Regions from separate parts of the Homo sapiens genome. Here region 1 is linked to region 2. A link means that fine-mapping ties the variant in region 2 to the expression of a gene that starts in the linked region. Tissue or cell type: whole blood. Region 2 holds a variant in brackets; the other region holds the start of a gene. All regions are shown on one strand. Distances are from middle to middle.

Evidence for each region. PIP is the estimated chance that this variant, and not a neighbour inherited with it, causes the effect.
Region 1: SDHAF2 starts here. The variant in region 2 is fine-mapped to the expression of SDHAF2 in whole blood (TOPMed, PIP above 0.99).

Annotation. Positions count from the first base shown.
Region 1 is chr11:61,427,207-61,433,220 of GRCh38, forward strand. It overlaps SDHAF2 (succinate dehydrogenase complex assembly factor 2), which reads left to right and starts at 2,918. Exons shown (of 4, transcript NM_017841.4): 1 at 2,918-2,976. The coding sequence starts at 2,941. It overlaps CPSF7 (cleavage and polyadenylation specific factor 7), which reads right to left and starts at 2,769. Exons shown (of 10, transcript NM_001142565.3): 1 at 2,708-2,769; 2 at 1,976-2,084. The coding sequence starts at 2,029. RefSeq lists enhancers at 1,984-2,632, 2,989-3,048 and silencers at 2,139-2,568, 2,679-2,848, 2,707-3,042.
Region 2 is chr11:61,094,430-61,100,809 of GRCh38, forward strand. It overlaps a transcript of CD5 not described here. Among named protein-coding and RNA genes, the nearest start is that of CD5, 4.9 kb to the right of the region's middle. The variant G/A (reference allele first, on the strand shown) is at 3,267.

The sequences.
Region 1 (6,014 bases), 330 kb after region 2:
CTAGGCAACACAGCAAGACTGTGTGTTTTTTTTTTTAAGGTATTAAAAGTCTGATTCAAATGAATATGGAAAACTCAGGAAAACAATGATTTTGTAACTAAATTAACATCTAGAACTTTTCTCTTTTATCCATAATTATTGGACTTATTTAAAACTAAAAAATTTTTTCGCCATGCACGGTGGCTCACGCCTGTAATCCCAACTTTGGGAGGCTAAGGCGGGCGGATCACAAGGTCAGGCATTCGAGACCAACCTGGCCAACATGGTGAAACCCCGTCTCTACTAAAATTACAAAAATTAGCCAGGTGAGGTGACCCACGCCTGTAGTCCCAGCTACTCAGGAGGCTGAGGCAGGAGAATCACTTTAACCTGGGAGGCAGAGGTTGCAGTGAGCCGAGATCGCGCCACTGCACTCCAGCCTGGGTGACAGAGAGAGACTCTGTCTCAAGAAAAAAAAAAAAAAAAAAGGAAAATTCATCTATTTAAGATAATCAGCAGCTATATTTAAAGGACCACAGTTAACCACAACAGAGACAAGAAACCTGCCATTAAAAAGTATAATTGGTGAAGCTGTATAATGGGTACAAGGTCATTACATTATTCTGCTTTTGTGTATGGTTTATAATTTCCATGTTATAAAACCATAATACATCAAAAAATAGATTTTCATGTAAACTTATGCCAAGTGAAAAATAAATGGCATGTATCCGCCTCTTCTGTTGCCTCATATCAAAGTCAGGGTCAAACCAGGGAACTTTCCCTTTCTAACCCATTCAATACATGCTCTTACCAGGTCCTTATGTGTACCCACTGGAAGATGCAAATGGGAAGAGCCAGCTTACTTACATAGAATGGTGCTGAAAATAACCCAGGCAAGATATTAGTACGTTTTCAATAGAAATTTTGGAACATTCTTGAGAATTGACCTCAAGACTGAAAAACTTAACTGCATGGAAGATTATTTCTTTGAGAGAATTTTTCTTGTGTTTTTAAGAGTCAGGGTCTTGTTCTGTTGCCCAGGATAGAGTGCAGCGGCCCAATCATGGCTCACTGCAGCCTTGAATTCCTGGGCTCAGGGAGTACCTCTTGCCTCACTCTCCAGAGTAGATGGGACTACAGGCACAAGCCACCATATCTCGTTGTTGTTTTTTTTTACATTTTTGTAGACTGGGTCTTGGTATGTTGCCCTGGCTGGTATTGAACTTCTGGTCTTAAGTAATCTTCCCATCTCAGGCTCCAGAGCAGCTGAGATTACAGTCAAGAGCCACCTTGCCCAGCTCTAGATAAATTTCTGTATAATGTTCCCTGGTACAATAAAAACAAATCCAACTGAGGGTATGTGCATGGGTCTATTATCAGTTTTCTAACTGGTTTGTCTAACGTCTTTACTCTTTTATTCCCTCTAGAAAGACTAAAGGTAACCAATACAATTTATTATACCAAAATGCCTGTGGACTTCTCATGACTGGAGTCAACCTACTTATAAAAGGAAGTAAAACTTAATTGGAATGGAGTTGAAACTAAATGTTAAAGTCATCTTTTCTACTTTGCTTTTGCACTGTCACGATGGAGGGGACTACACTTCTCCAGCTGCAGGTTGAGAATGTAAAGGAACCGGTATCAACACTGTCCTCATGAATACCGTAGCAAATGTACTTTTGATTTTTAAGTGTGGTTAGTCTGACACCCACCTTTGGCTTCCTGGGGAGTAAATTCCACAGGTTGATTCACCATTCTATTACACCTGCTTTTTATTTGCTCTTAAATCAAAGCCTTTAAAATTAAGCCTGGAGCTTCAAATTAACATAAAGAGGAATGGAGTGTAGTCTTTAAAGTTTCTGCAGGAGAAAAATTTTAGACCGGATAGACGCGTGTTCAAGCCTAGGACTGGTACAGCTTGAAACCACTGCCAGTTTGCTGAAAATGATTCCTCAGATGATCAAGGAAAATCCCAAAGCTCCTGATGACACCTCACCTGGTTGAACTCCTCGTCAGCATATATATCAATCAAGTCCACTCCTTCTGACATGGCTCCGGAAGGAAGATCGCGAGTCCGGAGGATGGACAAAGTAAGGAAGATGCCACTGCGGGATTCGGAAAAATGCAAGAATTAGAAGGCACGAGGGTCCTGGGCTGGGAAGAGGGTAATGATTGCTAACCTCCCATCTCCAGAGACGCAGCATCCTGGCGGCCCCAGCTCGGCCCCACCCGCTCCGCCCCGCCCCCGGCCTCGCGCCGCCCACCGCTCTCCCAGGCCGCCGGGGGTCGCTGCCCATCACCCTCGGGCCCGACCCGGGTAGCGCCGCGTCTGCGCCGCAGCTGCCTATGGCGCGACGGAAAAGTCCCACCCTCGGGTCCTAGTGGCCCTAGGACGGCGTTGCGAAGAATGACCGCGGCGAAGCCCGCAGCCCCTATCCGCTGCACCTGCCTAGCCCCCAAGGCGGCTCCGGCCAGAGCCCCCAGGTGTCAAGCAGCTCCAGCCGCCTCTGCCCCCAACCCAGGCCTACTCTTCGCCCCCAGCTAGGCCCGCCCCGCTCCCTCCCGACAAACCCGGCCCGGCGCGCTCTGCCTCCTCCCTCAAAAGGCCCGCGACTCCCTCCGCCCGCAGACTCCGGCCGTCCCATCTCAACCGACCCCCTTCCCGCCTCAGTGCCGGCCCGGACCCCTCTTCCGGCCCAACCTGCCCCCGACCGCGCGCCCCCGTTACCGGGAATATGGCGGCGGCGGCGGCGAGTCCGGACTAGGCCCGAAGCGCGCGAACCGCTCTCCGCCCCAGGTCCCGCCCCCCCCGCCGCCGGCGTCACACGCACCGCCACTTCCGGCATGCGCAGGGACGCACCTTCCGGCTCAGCTCCTCCGTGGCTGCCGTGGTCGGCTGGCCGGGCGGCTAGGAGTTCCCGGAAGTGCCCGCGCAGCCGGTTTCCGGTGCAGGTGGGGAAAATGGCGGTGTCTACAGTGTTCTCGACTTCGTCGCTGGTGAGGAGAGAGAACGTTCTAGCGTCCGGGGCGGGCGGCAGCGGGGATTACCCTTTGTCTTCCTCTGTGGTCTCTATCTTGGGGAGAGTTCGTCTGCCCGATAGCGCAGGGCAAGGGCAGGCCCAGGGAGAGGCCGATCCTGCAACTCAGGAAATAAAGGTCGCTTCCATTCTTTGGTGAGCCTACTGTGTGCCGGTCTGGAAATATCTGCTTAAACGATCAGTCATCGTCCAAGACCCAATTCGCCTCTCACCTACGTCCCAGGCGGGATTAGCCCAACTTCCCTGGGCTCCCCTTCTCCCCGTTCTTTAGTCTTTAATGCTTTTCGTGGTTTCACATAGTATCTTCAGCTTTTTGTTTGTTTATAATTGACATATAATTGTACGTGTTTATGGGGGTACAGTATAATGTTTTAATACATGTGTACATCGAATAATCAAATCAGCGTAGTTAGCATGTCCATCACCTCAAATCTTTATCATTTATTTACGGTAATAACTTTTCAAGATCTTTTTCTAGCATCTTGACATATACAGTACAGTGTTATTAGCTGTAGTCACTCTAATATGTAATAGAACACTGGAACTTATTATTCTTTTTTCCTAGCCTGCTGTTATAAAGTAACTAACTTTGCCTCTATCTTCCCCTCCTACCCCCATCCCTATCTTTATTCTTTTTTTTTTTTCCTGCAGACCCAGGGACTCGATCTTTATTCTTTTTTGATGTAGGCGTTTACACTATAAACTTCCTTCTTAGTACAGCTTTTGTCGCATCTCATAATTTTGTATATGTTGGGTTTTAGTTTGTCTCAGGATATTTCCTTTTTGTTTGTTTTTTGTTGTTTTCCTTTTTTTTTTTTGAGACGGAGTTTTGCTCTTGTCGCCCAGGCTGGAGTGCAATGGCACGAACTTGGCTCACTGCAACCTCCACCTACCGGGTTCAAGCGATTCTTCCGCCTCAGCCTCCCAGGTAGCTGGGATTACAGGCATCGCCATCATGCCTGGCTAATTTTTGTATTTTTGTAGAGATGGGGTTTCACCTTGTTGGCCAGGCAGGTCTCGAACTCCAGACTTAAGGTGATCCGTCCTTCTCGGCCTCCCAAAGTGCTGAGATTACAGGCGTGAGCCACCGCGCCCGGCCTGTTGTTTCCCTTCTTTTTTCTTTTTTTCGTAGAGACAGGTTCTCACTATGTTGCCCAGGCTGGTCTCAAACTCCTGGCCTCAAGTGATCCTCCTGCCTCAGCTTTCCAAAAAGTGCTGGGATTACTGGTGTGATCCACCATTCCCGGCGTGTCTCAAGATATTTTCTAATTTTCCTTTTGATGTCTTCTTTGACTCATTGATTGTTCAAGAGTGTGTTGTTTAATTTCCACATATTTGTGAATTTTCCACCTTTTCTTTTGCCATTGATTTCCAGATTTTAATAAAATGTCTCTTGTGCGGCATATAGTTGAATCTTTTTTTTAATTCATTATATTCAGCCACTTCATGTCTTTTGGTTGGGGAGGTTATGTTATGTTATGTTATTTTCTTGAGACAGAGTCTCGCTCTGTCGCCCAGGTTGGAGTGCAGTGGCATGATCTCGACTCACTGCAAGCTCCACCTCCTGGGTTCACGCCAATCTCCTGGTTTAGGAGTAGCTGGGACTACAGGCGCCCCCCACCACGCCTGGCTAATTTTTTGTATTTTTAGTAGAGACGAGATTTCACCGTGTTAGCCAGGATGGTCTCGATCTCCTGACCTCGTGATCTGCCCGCCTCAGCCTCCCAAAGTGCTGGGATTACAGGCGTGAGCCACCGCGCCAGGCCTGGAGTTTAATCCATTTATACCTAAAGTAAATAGTGGCCGAGGTGGGTGGATCGTGTGAGTCCTGGAGTTCGAGACCAGCCTGGGCAACATGGCAAAACCCCTTTTCTACTAAAAAAAATTAGTCAGGTGTGGTAGTACACACCTGTAGTCCCAGCTACTTGAGAGGCTGAGGCGGGAGTGCGTCTGAGAAGTCAAGGCTGCGGTGAGCCTTGATTTTGCAACAGCACTCCAGCCTGGGCATTGGAAGTGAGACCTTGTCTCAAAAAATAAATAAAATAGGGAAGTACAATCATCCCTTTGTATCCATGGGATGACTGTTGTAGGATCCGCTGTGGATATCAAACTCTGCAGAAGCTCAGTCTCTTATATAAAATGGCATAGTATTTGCATATAATCTACACACATACTTCCATATCCTTTAAATTATTTCTAGATTACTTATAATACCGAAAACAATGTCAAGGCTATGTATATGCTTGTTATACTATATCTTAGTTGTTTTTTAATTGTTGTATTATTTATTTCTTTTGAATATTTTTGATCCACAGTTGGTTGAGTGTGCAGTTGGTTGAATTTACAGGTGTGGAACCCACAGATACGGAGGGCCAACTGTGCTTGCTGTTGCCGTTTTGTAAACTGTTCTCTGTCTTACAACCTTTTTGCTCCTCTTTTCCACTCTTGTCATCCTTTATATTTCGTTGACTTTTTTTTTTTTGTAGTGACATACTTTGAGAAACGAATTTCTCATTTCCTTGTGTGTCTTACACAGGTATTTCTTTGTGGTTACCATGTGGCTTATATAAAACATAACAATCTGTTTTGATAACTTAATTTCCATTGCATACAAAAACTCTGCTCTTTTATGACCCCCTTGTATGTTGTGGATGTCACAAATTACATCTTTTTATATTGTCTCCATTAACAAATTTTTATAGTTGTTTTTATACCTTTGTCTTTAATTTCTATACCAAAATTAAAAGTGACTTACATACCACAGTTACAGTATTATAGTATTCTGTACTTGTCTCTCTCTATATATTTTTTTAATTTAATTTTTTTTTTTTTTTGAGACGGAGTCTCGCTCTGTTGCCAGGCTGGAGTGCAGTGGCGCGATCTTGGCTCACTGCAACCTCCATCTCCTGGGTTCAAGCGATTATCCTGCCTCAGCCTCCCGGGTAGCTGAGACTACAGGCGCCCGCCACCATGCCTGGCTAATGTTTTGTATTTTTA
Region 2 (6,380 bases):
AATCGCTTGACAGGACTGGTCTTGGGAACTTGCCTACTCCATTTGAGTAGAAGCGTGTCCTGATCACCCACAGTGTGCCTGTACCAGCACTTTGGTTTTTGTTTTTGACTTGTCTTGGATTGCTTGATACTTTGGTTTTGGTTTTGACCTGGCTTGGATTTCTTGATACTCTGATTTTGGTTTTGATTCTGGCTTGGCGTAAACTGTAAAAGTGTGTGTGTGCCCTTTTTACCCGTTCTTTGTTTTGTGGTGTGAGCATGGTGTTTTGTCTCGAGGAAACATGGGTCAGACACAAAGTAAGCCTACCCCACTAGGAACTATGTTGAAAAATTTCAAAAAGGGATTTAAGGGAGACTCTGGAGTCACTATGACACCAGGAAAACTTAGAGCTTTGTGTGAGATAGACTGGCCAGCATTAGAGGTGGGTTGGCCATCGGAAGGAAGCCTGGACAGGTCCCTTGTCTCGAAGGTATGGCACAGGGTAACCTGTAAGCCAGGGCACCCAGATCAGTTCTCACATATAGATTCTTGGTTACAGCTAGTTTTGGACCCCCCGCAGTGGTTAAGAGGACAGGCAGCAGCAGTACTAGTAGCAAAGGGACAGTTAGTTAAGGAAGGTTCTCGATCCCACCCGCCGAGGGAAGTCAGCACCAAAAGTCCTGTCCAACCCAACACCAGAAGAGTCACAGCAGGAATTGGTACCAGCAGTATCCCCTCCTTATCAAGAGGAAGGGCTCCCCACTCCTGAGCCCACAGCACCTACAACTCCACCAGATAACCACACCCCAGACCACCCAGAGTAGACAAAAGAGGAAGTGAAGCCACGGGAGAAACTCCTCCCTTGAAAGCTCGCTTACAGCCCAAGACTGGAATCCAAATGCCCCTGAGAGAGCAGTGATATACTGGGGTAGATGAGGACGGACACATGGTGGAAAGGCGTGCCTTTGTGTATCAACCTTTTACCTCTGCTGACCTCCTCAATTGGAAAAATAATACTCCATCTTACACTGAAAAGCCTCAAGCTTTAATTGACTTGCTCCAAACTATTATACAGACTCATAATCCTACTTGGGCTGACTGCCACCAGCTGCTCATGTACCTCTTTAATACAGGTGAAAGGTGAAGGGTGCTCCAGGCGGCAACTAAGTGGCTAGAGAAGCACGTCCCAGCCAATTACCAAAACCCCCAAGAATATATAAGAATTCAGCTGCCAGGAACAGACCCCCAATAGGACCTGAACGAGGGACCAGACATGGAGAGGCTAAGACGGTACCGTGAGGCATTAATAGAAGGTCTAAGGAAAGGGGCTCAAAAGGCTACAAATGTAAATAAGGTCTCTGAGGTCATCCAAGGAAAAGAGGAGAGTCCAGCACAATTCTATGAAAGACTGTGTGAGGCTTACTGTATGTACACTCCTTTTGATCCAGATAGCCCTGAGAATCAGCCCATGATTAACATGGCCTTACTTAGTCAAAGCACGGAATATATCAGGAGAAAATTGCAGAAACAGGCTGGGTTTGCGGGTATGAATACCTCACAGTTACTGGGGTTTGCGGGTATGAATACCTCACAGTTACTGGAAATAGTCAATCAAGTGTTTGAGAATGCAACAAGCCACAGAGAAAGCCGTAAGGAAGGCGAACGCCAGGCTAGGCGAAACGCCGACTTACTGGCCATGGCCATTATGGGAATTCCCCCGAAAGGAGAGGGAAAGGGGGGTTCTGGGAAGAATACCCAGTCTAATCTCCCATGCTTGCAATGTAACCAATGCGCCTGTTGTAAGGAAGTAGGGCATTGGAAAGATAAGTGTCCCCAACTGAAGGAAAAGCAAGGTGATTCAGAACAAAAGACCTCAGATAAAGATGAGGGAGCTTTGTTCAATCTGGCTGAAGGGCTACTGGACTGAAGGGGACCGGGCGCAAGCACCCCCAAGGAGCCCAAGGTCAGGATTACAACTGGGGGCAAGGACGTTAAGTTTTTGGTTGATAGTGGTGCTGAACCTTCAGTAGTGACCACCCCGGTCACCCCCTCATCCAAGAAAACCATTGATATAATCAGAGCAACAGGAGTTTCCACTAAGCAGGCTTTCTGTCTACCACGGACCTGCTCGGTGGGGGGACATGAGATAGCTCACCAGTTCTTGTACATGCCTGACTGTCCCTTGCCCTTGCTGGGAAGAGACTTGCTTAGCAAGTTGAGAACCACCATCTCCTTTACAAAGCAGGGCTCTTTACAGCTAAAGTTACCAGCAACAGGAGTTATCATGGCCCTTACGGTCCCCCGGGAAGAAGAATGAAGACTTTTTCTAACCAAGCCAGGCCAAGAGATAAAACCAGCTCTAGCTAAGCAATGGCCCCAAGTATGGACAGAGGATAATCCTCCAGGACTGGTGGTCAGCCAAGCCCCTGTACTCATAGAAGTTAAGCCTGGGGCCCAACCAATTAGACAAAAGCAGTATCTGGTTCCCAGAGAAGCTCTCGAAGGAATCCAGGTTCCTCTCAGGCGCTTGACAGCCTATGGAATTATAGTTCCTTGCCAGTCTCCACGGAACACCCCCCTCCTACCTGTCCCTAAACCAGGGACCAAGGACTACTGGCCAGTACAGGACTTGGTCCGAGGAGAAGTTTACAAACCCTCTCCTGAGCCAGTGTTTCAAACTTTCTAAGATGAACTCAATGTGCCAGTACCACAAATTCCAGGAAAAACAAGAAATTTGTTTTTGCAATTAGCCGAGCACGTAGCCCAGTCTCTCAATGTCACTTCATGTTATGTATGCGGAGGAACTGTAATGGGAGGTCAATGGCCATGGGAAGCCCAAGAATTACTACCTACAGACCCAGTTCCTGATGAATTCTTGGCTCAAAAGAATCACCCTGATAATTTCTGGGTCCCAAAAGCCTCAATTATTGGACAATATTGCATAGCTAGAGAAGGAAAAGAATTCACTCACCCCGTAGGACGACTTAGTTGTCTGGGACAGAAACTGTATAATGGTACCACAGAAACAGTCACTTGGTGGAGTTCAAATCACATAGAGAGGAATCCATTTAGTAAATTCCCAAAGTTGCAAACCGTGTGGACCCACCCGGAGTCCCACCAGGACTGGACAGCCCCCACTGGATTATACTGGATATGTGGGCATAGAGCTTACGCCAAATTACCTGACCACTGGGCAGGTAGTTGTGTTATTGGCACTATTAAACCATCTTTCTTCCAACTGCCCATAAAAACAGGTGAACTCCTGGGCTTCCCTGTCTATGCTTCCC[G/A]CAAAAAGAGAAGCATAGCTATAGAAAATTGGAAAGATGATGAATGGCCGCCCCCTGAGAGAATCATACAATATTATGGGCCTGTTACTTGGGCACAAGACGGCTTGTGGGGATACCAGACCCCCATTTACGTGCTCAACCGAATCATACGGTTACAAGCTGCCTTAGAAATAATCACTGATAAAATCAGCAGAGCCTTGACTATTCTGGCCTGGCAAGAAACTCAGATGAGAAATGCTATCTCTCAAAATAGATTGGCTCTCGACTACTTGCTAGCAGCTGAAGGAGGGGTCTATGGGAAATTTAACCTTACTAATTGCTGTCTACACGTAGATGATCAAGGACAAGTAGTTGAAGATATAGTTAGAGATAGGACAAAACTGGCACATGTGCCCGTGCAAGTGTGGCATGAATTTGATCCTGGGGCCATGTTTGGAAAATGGTTCCCAGCACTAGGAGGATTTAAAACTCTTATAATAGGAGTTTTAATAGTAATAGGAACCTGCTTACTGCTCCCTTGTTTGCTACCTGTACTTCTTCAAATGATAAAAAGCTTCATCGCTACCTTAGTTCACCAAAATGCTTCAGCCCAAGTGTACTATGTGAATCACTATTGATCTGTCTTGCAAGAAGACATGGTAGTGAAAATGAAAGTGAGAACTCCCACTCATGAGTGAGATTCTCAAAAGAGGGGAATAAGGGAGGAGACCACCCCTCATACTGTCTTATGCCCAATTTCTGCCTCCAAAGAAAGAAGAAGTAAAAACTAAAAGGCAGAAATGAAATCTGCTCGGCACCACACCTGGGCTTGGTAGTTAAAGATCGACCCCTGACCTAATCTGTTATGTTATCTATAGATTACAGACATTTTATAGAAAAGCACTGTGAAAATCCCTGTCCTATTCTGTTCCATTCTAATTATCAGTGCATGCAGCCCCCAGTCATGTACCCCCTGCTTGCTCAATCGATCATGACCCTCTCAAGCAGACTCCCTTAGAGTTGTGAGCCCTTAAAAGGGACAGGAATTGCTCACTCAGAGAGCTCAGCTCTTGAGACAGGAGTCTTGCTGATGCTCCCGGCTGAATAAACCCCTTCTTTCTTTAACTTGGTGTCTGAGGGGTTTTGTCTGTGGCTTGTCCTGCTACAGGTCTAAGTGGAATCTAAGTGGAGGCATCACTGAGCCAGCCTCTCCAGCCCAGGGATGGGGAGGCCCCAGGCCCTAGTGGACCTGGACCAGTGATCACGTCCTTGAACTACTTCCTACCTGCCTGGGGTGGCCCAGAGTACAGGAAGCCCAAGGAGCCAGGAGCTTTCTCATCTGGGAGCACAAAGGATGTGAGGAAAAAACGGAACCCAGCCCAGCCCAGGGAAACACAGGGACTTTCCCCTGCCCCGGGCTTCCCATCTTCTTTGCAGAGACCCTGCCTCTTCTTCAAGGGGGATGATTCCAGACCCTCTAAGAGCAACAGGGACACGGAGCTCACATACATACCCCACATCAACATGGAGATCACACACCTCAACACGGAGATCACACACATCAACATGGAAATCACACACACATATCGAATGGGGATTACACACATCAACGTGGAGCTCATACATACACCCCAACATGGAGATCACACCCACAACACAGAGATCACACAAGTCAACATGGAGATCACACACACACATCAACATGGAAATCACACACACACATCAACATGGAAATCACACACATCAACATGGAGATCACACACACACATCAACATGGAGATTACACATACATCAACATGGAGATCACACACACATCAACATGGAGATCACACACACACATCAACATGGAGATCACATTCGCACACATCAACATGGAGATCACACACACACATCAACATGGAGATTCACACATATCAACATGGAGATCACATTCACACACATCAACATGGAGATCACATTCACACACATCAACATGGAGATCACAAACACACATCAACATGGAGATCAAATTCACACATCAACATGGAGATTACACACACATCAACATGGAGATCACATTCACACACATCTACATGGAGATCACATTCACAACACAAACATGGAGATCACACACACATATATCAAATGGGGATTACACACACATCAACCCCAACATGGAGATCACACACACAGCACAGAGATCACACATGTCAACATGGAGATCATACACACACATCAACATGGAGATCACACACACATCAACATGGAGATCACACACACATCAACATGGAGATCACACACACTCGTCAACATGGAGATCACATTCACACACATCAACATGGAGATCACACACACACATCAACATGGAGATCACACACACACGACATGGAGATCACACACACACATCAACATGGAGATCACTCACACACATCAACATGGAGATCACACACACATCAACATGGAGATCACATTCACACACATCAACATGGAGATCACACACACACAACATGGAGATTACACACACACATCAACATGGAGATCACACACACATCAACATGGAGATCACACACACACAACATGGAGATCACACACACACATCAACATGGAGATCACACACACATCAACATGGAGATCACACATACATCAACATGGAGATCACACACACACGACATGGAGATCACACACACACATCAACATGGAGATCACTCACACACATCAACATGGAGATCACACACACACATCAACATGGAGATCACATTCACACACATCAACATGGAGATCACACACACACAACATGGAGATTACACACACACATCAACATGGAGATTACACACACAACATGGAGATCACATTCACACATATCAACATGGAGATCACATTCACACACATAAACATGGAGATCACACACACACATCAACATGGAGATCACACACACATCAACATGGAGATCACACACACAACATGGAGATCACACACACACATCAACATGGAGATTACACACACATCAACATGGAGATCACATTCACACACATCAACATGGAGATCACAAACACACATCAACATGGAGATCACACACACACATCAACATGGAGATCACATTCACACACATCAACATGGAGATCACAAACACACATCAACATGGAGATCACACACACA